2 linked regions of the Homo sapiens genome follow. The protein of the gene in region 1 interacts with the protein of each later gene in a pairwise test. Each region holds a gene or a part of one and is shown on either strand. Other genes may lie near its edges.

What was found. Proteins that work in one complex are often made in the same cells at the same time.
Region 2: the proteins of PACSIN1 (region 1) and FRYL interact in a two-hybrid assay, tested with the Homo sapiens proteins (one large-scale study listed by IntAct).

Annotation. Positions count from the first base shown.
Region 1 is NC_000006.12:34,525,076-34,528,575, reverse strand, and holds part of PACSIN1 (protein kinase C and casein kinase substrate in neurons protein 1), read right to left. Parts: intron 2,334-3,500; 5' UTR 2,271-2,333; coding exon 2,208-2,270; intron 1,245-2,207; coding exon 1,088-1,244; intron 1-1,087. UniProt on the Homo sapiens protein: Plays a role in the reorganization of the microtubule cytoskeleton via its interaction with MAPT; this decreases microtubule stability and inhibits MAPT-induced microtubule polymerization.
Region 2 is NC_000004.12:48,770,065-48,773,796, reverse strand, and holds part of FRYL (protein furry homolog-like), read left to right. Parts: intron 1-3,732. UniProt on the Homo sapiens protein: Plays a key role in maintaining the integrity of polarized cell extensions during morphogenesis, regulates the actin cytoskeleton and plays a key role in patterning sensory neuron dendritic fields by promoting avoidance between homologous dendrites as well as by limiting dendritic branching.

The DNA.
Region 1 (3,500 bases):
CCTTCTCTGAGGCTTTCCCTTTCCTCTCATAGCAACAGAAATGCCCTCCTCTGCTCTACGTGGCCCCATCCTCTAGGGCCCACATCAGCCACCACCTCCAGGAAGCCTTCCCTGACTGCTCTGCCCTCCTGCCATGGCCAGCAGCCCTCGCTGCATTCTTCTCACAGTATCTGCGGCCATACCTCCCTCCTCCTTATCTCTCTTGTCAGCATGTGAGCCCCATGGAATGGGGTCGGAGGGGGGCAGCCTGGACCCTGTGAGCTCTGACAAGCCCAGCACAGCGCCAAGCACACAGTAGGTGCTCCAGGAATGTTAGCTGAAGCTTGTGACAGATGCCAAGAGGCCACTGGGGACCAGTCATTCCACACTGACTTGTTGTTTGTGTACTGGCACCAGCTCTGTGCAGGGCACTGTGTTAGGTGGTGCAGGCCCAGCCCCTGCTCTCATGGGGTTTAGAGTATACTGCAAGAGAATAACATGAACAAGTATATGTAAACCGCAACTTCAAACTGTTCTAGATTAAAGGAACCTGAAGACACAATGCATAGAGGCAATGTGCGACTGCACTAGATCCTGGACTAGCAAGCGCAATTGCCATGGTAAATGTGCGTATGGGTCGTATTACATGTCCCAAATTTGATAGCTGAACTCTGGTTACTTAAGCAAATGCTCTTGTTCTTAGGAGATACATGAAGAATTTAGGGGTAAACAGGGATAATGGCTCCAGCTTACTCTCAAATGGTTCAGAAAATATGCATATCAATAAACAGTCAGTGAGAAAACGTGGGGCCAGTGAGCCTGGGGGAAGGGTATGTAGGAATTCTCTGTGCTACTGTTGCAACTTTCACAAAGTTTGAATTATTTCAAGATAAAAAGTGTTTTTTTTTTTTTAATTCAACCTAAAATTGTACAAAATAGAGATGAACAGGTAGGCCTGGTTTGATCTAGGAGGGAACAGCGCCTGAAAATGTCCTGTGTCTGGTAGATGGAGGGCATGGTGCATGCAAGTAGCCGGGGCTCCTAGGACCCAGACCTAGGGGGCTCGTGACGGCCTGGGGGCGCGCACGATGTGAGCCTGGGGGAGCACCTTTCTCGATGAGCTGGCGCCAACGCTTGGCCCAGTCGGTGAGCTGCTGCCCGTACGCCTTCTCGATCTTGGCGCGCTCCTGCACGCAGTTCATCAGGTCGTTGCATAGACGGTGGCCGTCATCGATGCGCTTCACGGTCCGCTTGTAGTTCCCCACCTGGCGGCCAAGCAGCGAGCACCACTCCCGCGGGTTCCCAGCGTCCCCAGCCCCGCCCGCCGCATCCAGCACGGCCACGCCCACTGTCTTCCGCCCCGCCTCCCCGCTTACGGCCTCGCCGTCCCCGCCCCCGCCCCCGCCCCCCGCCCCGCGGCGCAGCGGCAACACCCCAGGGAAACTAACTTTCGGAGGCTCCAGCACCCTGCCTCAGGCCCCGCCGTCTACACGCACCCTCACCCCAATTTAAACATGATTTCCTTGCTGCCACAAAATGCAGAAGGATTTTTAGAATTTGGACTTGGGCTGGAATGAATTATTCATTTTGTTTTTGCGAGTTAAATCTATTATATTTATATAGAGTCATATAAGCGTTGAGTTGAGCTGCAGCTTCTTGACATAATATTATGTTTTGTCGACATCTCATTAAACGCTTATTAATTTAGGTTTGGCAGTTTTCGTCTTGGGTTTCCGGAGCCAATAGCAATTTTTTTTCTCCAGGTCTCAAATATTTCCGAAGGTTCTGAAAATGCTGGCTTCTGGCTGTGCCTCCCGCTCTGCGGCCCCGTGGGGCTCTGGGAGCTCACTCCCTCTCTCTGTGTCCGGCGCTCCACCCCTGCCCACCTCAGGATGGGGGGCGAGCGAGGGAAATAGGAACAGCTGAGAAAGGCTGTGCTGTACCTGCCTGATGGAAGTGCCACAGAGTCACAAAGGGCCTGTTCCCACATTGTGAAATGCCACAGGCTCTCTCTGGGGGCAGCTGTGGGGAGAGAGGAGCTCCTGGCTCAGTGGGCAGTGCTCTTAGCCACTTCATGGCTACCGCTGCCTGTTGGACACCCAGGGCTTTGGAGGGGCCTGGGGGACTGCGGAGTGGGGCCTGAGGTCATGGGGTGAGTGATAAGGGAGCCTGGCCTCCAAACAGCCAGGCTGTCTGGTCCCCGAACCTGGGGATCATGAGAGCCTCACCTCCCAGAAGCTGTCGGTGGTCTCCTCTGGCGCCAGTGAGGCCTCATCGTAGGAGCTGGACATGGTGTAGCCGCAGGGGGATGGACAAGTGCGGAGCTGCGGTTAGCAGGCTCGGCTGCTCATGCACTGGGAGGGCAGGAGAGAGATCCCTGGAGATGAGGGAAGGGCCTTCCACCCTTTGCCCCATTCCAGGCCTGGGTCCCCAAACCGATGGGACCCAGGGAGGCTTGCATTAGGATGCCATCTTCCTGTCCAGAGACTAACTCACCAGACTTAGGTAACCCCAAGAGTCGCCCTGTAGCACCCTCATGCCCAACTCCCCATCCCTCCTCCTTCCCCCTCCCTGGAATCCATCCTCTATCCAGTATGAGCACCTCCGTTCAGAAGCCAGCCCCAGCCCCCAGAGCTGGCTCTCTCTCCTGGACTGTTGGAGCCCAGGCTCAGCGCCTCCTCAGTTATCTGAGCCCCGGGACCCTGTAAATGCCCTTCTGTCTGCCCTTGCTCCCAACCTCAGCAGCCCCCATTAGCTTCTTACAAGTCTCCTGAGAGTCCCAAATGTGTGGTGTCCTGGCCCACAGGTCACACCACCGAGATCTATGGGAGCGTCTGGGGTGGCTGTGTCTGCCCTGGATCTGTCGGCAGGCATCAGGGTTATCCAATCTAGGCCGTGCGCTGCCCCAGGGCCGAGGTGGGTACTCCCCTCCTCCCTTCCCCCAGCCAGGCCTCACTGTTACCCCAGGCAAGAATGGCTCAGTAGTCAGGAGCCAGGACTCAGAGGGCCAAGGGCCTGGTTTTCAAAGAGGCAGCAGAGTCCAGGCTGCGCCTGGCCCTGATACAAGCTGCCAGCCTCTAGCTGGATCCCGGCACCAGGGGACACCTCCCTGCTTCTGCACTGCAGTCCCAGGACTGTGAACCCTGACAGTGTGGATGCTCAGGGAAGGCTGGCCTCTGTAAGATTCAGCCCAACCTGGGGGTCCAGCAGTTGGCTCTCAGGCTCAGGGCAGGGGCAATAACACGTAAGAATGGTTGGTGGAGGATGTCCCTCCCCCTAGGGCTCCCCATCTGTCCAGGGCCTGGGGCTCTTTCCCAGTAATAACCCAGTATTGCCTCTTGCACCCCTCAGGCATCTAAACATATTTTGTTCCCTCCCTTTTAGAAGAACCACAGACAGACTTTCCCATAAACTCACGCACAGTGCGGGTGGGTGAGAGGGAGGACGGCTGGATTTCATCAAGGGACAAAGAAATGAGTCTGAATTTTTCTTTTCTTAACTTGGCACTTTTCACTTATAAA
Region 2 (3,732 bases), on another chromosome or scaffold:
CACAGGCATGTGCCACCACACCCAGCTATTTTTTGTAGAAAGAGGATCTTGCCATGTTGCCTAGGCTGATCTTGAACTCCTAGGCTGAAGCTATCTGCCTGCCTTGGCCTCCCAAAGTGCTGGGATTACAGGTGTGAGCCACCGTAGAAAGGTTTTAAGAGAAAATTTAACCCATCATTATTCTACCTAAGCCTGGAGAATAATAGGAAATTTTTTTTTTCCCCTATGAAAACCATTAGACTCATTCTGGTAACACTTCCTTATACTAACATAATCATTTGATGACTCTTTTCAAGTAAACAATTTAGGTTTCGAGTTCTGCAGACTGGACTCAAATAAAGGGCAATACTTTAAAGGAAGTTAAAAGTACTTAGTTCTAATCGTTGATGAATGTGATGTGACATTTGCCCCTTACTGGTTAAAAAAATAGTGCTTCGTAGATTGATCATGATGGATTTGCATTACTCTTGCATATTGCTAGTGACTTGGTAGACCCTTAATAAGTGCTTATTGATTGGCTGATCACTATGATCACAGATATTTTCATCAGCTCTACTAGTCTTTATCTTGCGTCTTATAATAATAATGATAGATAATCTGTTGACTACTTGCTAAGTAGTGTGATAAGTAATTTATATGTACCATATTTTAAGGTAGGAGGATGCAGTTTACATTTTGAGAATTTTTTGTAGTTGTCTCTGTTGATTATACTTTTACAGGCTTCTGATCATTTCTTTGTCTTTTTAAGACTATTTTGAGTGACTATTTTTGATCAAATGTAAGACACTTTGATGCTGGTGCTTCCTTGATCTTTCCAGGAGGAATCAACTGAACGTTTTCACCAACGACATCCCACTGTTGGATGACAGTAGTTGTAAGATACACCTCTATTTCAGCGTCCATACTTCAGAAAGGTTAAAAGTGTTGTTGTTGTTAAAAGCATCTGAAAGTTGATGAAAAAGGAACATTAGTTTGTTTACTTACTGCAGTGCAGCCTTGCTTTTTAGGATATAAACCACTCACGTGTTCTTTGTTGCCTGAATGGATTTCAGTGTAGTATTTCCACTTCTCAGAATTCTTGTTTTGTTCTGCTTTTTTTTTTTTTTTTTTTTTTTTTGGTAGGTCTCTTCATTTCAGGGTAAGCTTCAGATGTGATTTAATTTAGTTCAATAGTAAAGAATGCTGGAAAGATAATTTGTAATTTTATTTTTCCATTTTAAAACTTAAGATGGGTTATGCCATCTATAATACTGGTTAAAAATATTAGTTTGATGAATGTGCATCTTAATAAATGTACATTCCTGTGTAACTTGATCCCTCTCAATGTGTATAAATAGTATGAGTAGATTCAAGTACATCATCCCTTGATGTATGTAGATCCAAGTTTAGAAAGGTATTTATTTATTTTTTTGACACAGAGTCTTGCTCTGTTGCCCAGGCTGGAGTGCAGTGGTGCAATCACGGCTCACTGTGGCCTTTACCGGCAGGTCTCATGTGACTATCAAGTGAATTACTATCAAAAATAGAGGTTCAAAATAATCTTAAAAAGACAAAGACTTGCTAGCCTGTAGAAGTGTAAAGTATAGTTAATGGAAACAATTACAAAAAATTCTCAAAATATAATCTGCATCCTTCCACCTTAAAAGATGGTACATATACATTATTAATACTTATACCTTACTTATTAAGTAGTCAATAGATTTAGTGACATTCGTATGTCTGGGATGTCAGTGAACTCACAACAATTTATTTGCAAAAGGAACTCTAGCCAATTAGTGTCCTCAGCCAGCAATGTACAGAGAATCATATTTTGTTTGTTGGTGAAACCATTCCTTTCTAAATCATGTCTGCTTTTGGGGGTTGATTTGCTTATTACTTTATTGTTAACTGTTATCTCTTTGTTTGCTCTCATTATGCCTGCCCATAGTAGTCTCCTCTTTATAATTTGATGTTTTCAGTGTGCTGTGGGAACAGAACCCCATACAGTACTTGCTGAATGGTGGATAAAAATGACAGCATGTTCTTCTGGGTGAGGAACCAGAAGACTTTCTGTGCATGGAGCTTTAGTGCTAGGGACTTGTTGTTTTTTACTGCTTAGAGGACTCGTGCTTTTTTTCTGGTTTTTGACTCTGTTTTGGCTAAGTGATGCTTCTGGATAGCCGAGGATGGTATAACAGGATGGTAGATGCTACCCTGTGGATGTTTAACTTCCTCTGAATAATAAACCTCTAAAAATTGTCTTGTTAAGTCTAACTCAAGTGGATGGAGAAGAACTGTTTTTCCTGTTAGAATGACTTGCTAGTCTACTTCTTGTAAGAACCATCAAAACCCTAAGCATGTATACTAGGATACTTAGATCTACTGGTATATTGTTACAATGTAAGTCAAAGAGCAGATATTAAAAGTCTTAAAGCACTATGAGATTGCTTGTAAAATAGCCAGATGTGTCTGTTACCTAAATATTTTTGTTTAAACTGGATCTTAATCTGTTTTCTTTGAGGTAAAATTATCTTTATAGATGCATTTTTCTGTATTTGTGTTGATACAATTTAGACCATGTCTTGTATGTAATATTCCTGATACTACTGAACCCTTAATATACTTTCAGTAAATACTAGTTACAGTTTGTCATGCATTTTTTCATTGTTTCACCTTTTCCTGCCTTAGAGTTAATGTTTTTGGAGCTAGAATGTCCTTAGGAATGATACAGTAGAATTTCTGCATTTTATAGATGAGAATGAGACTGTGACTTGTTTAGAATTGTTCTTTTTCTGCAGATGTAGATTTGAAAGGAAATAACAAAAAACAAACAAAAAAAGAACTGTGCTTTGATTCTTAGTTTAGTATTTTTCCTGTTCTAACATTTTTCCTGTTCTAATGTTCTTCCCAAGGTAAAAATTTTAAGGGAGGGATAGTAGCTTGGAATTTTGTAGCCTCTGTAACAGAAGTCTGCAAAAATTTTATTTCAGCAGTATAAAAAATTGAGTCTTCATTCCCAATATGTGTATGCTTATTTATTGTAAACTATATACTATAAATTATGTTCATAATAAGACATTAACCCGGGCGTGGTGGCTCACACCTGTAATTCCAGCACTTTGGGAGGCTGAGGCGGGCAGATCACCTGAGGTTGCGAGTTCGAGACCAGCTCAACCAACATGGAGAAACCCCATCTCTACTAAAAATACAAAATTAGCCAGGCGTGGTAGTGCATGCCTGTAATCCCAGCTACACAGGAGGCTGAGGCAGGAGAATCACTTGAATCCGGGAGGCGGAGGTTGCGGTGAGCCGAGATTGCACCATTGCACTCCAAACTGGGCAACAAGAGCGAAACTCTGTCTCAAAAAAATAAAAAATAAATAAAAAATAAAAAAGACATTAACAAAAAAATGTGATAAGGATGAAAAACATTTTCAAATAATTTAAAATATATTAGTTCCATGTTTTTGATCCTACTTAAAATATTAGTAATTTGTAAAATAAGAAAAATGTGATTGAATATCATCACTTAAACATTTTTTTTTAAATTTTGAAGTATTTATAGACTCATGGGAAGTTGCGAGAATAGTACAGGGAGTCCTGTGTCACCTTCATTCAGCTTCTCCCAGTTGTAACATCTTACATAAGATAACATATTAATAACCTTAACTAGGAAACTGATACAATATCGTTAATATTCAGATTTCATGTTCTTTAATGTGCTCATTTGTATGTATATGCGTGTGTACAGTT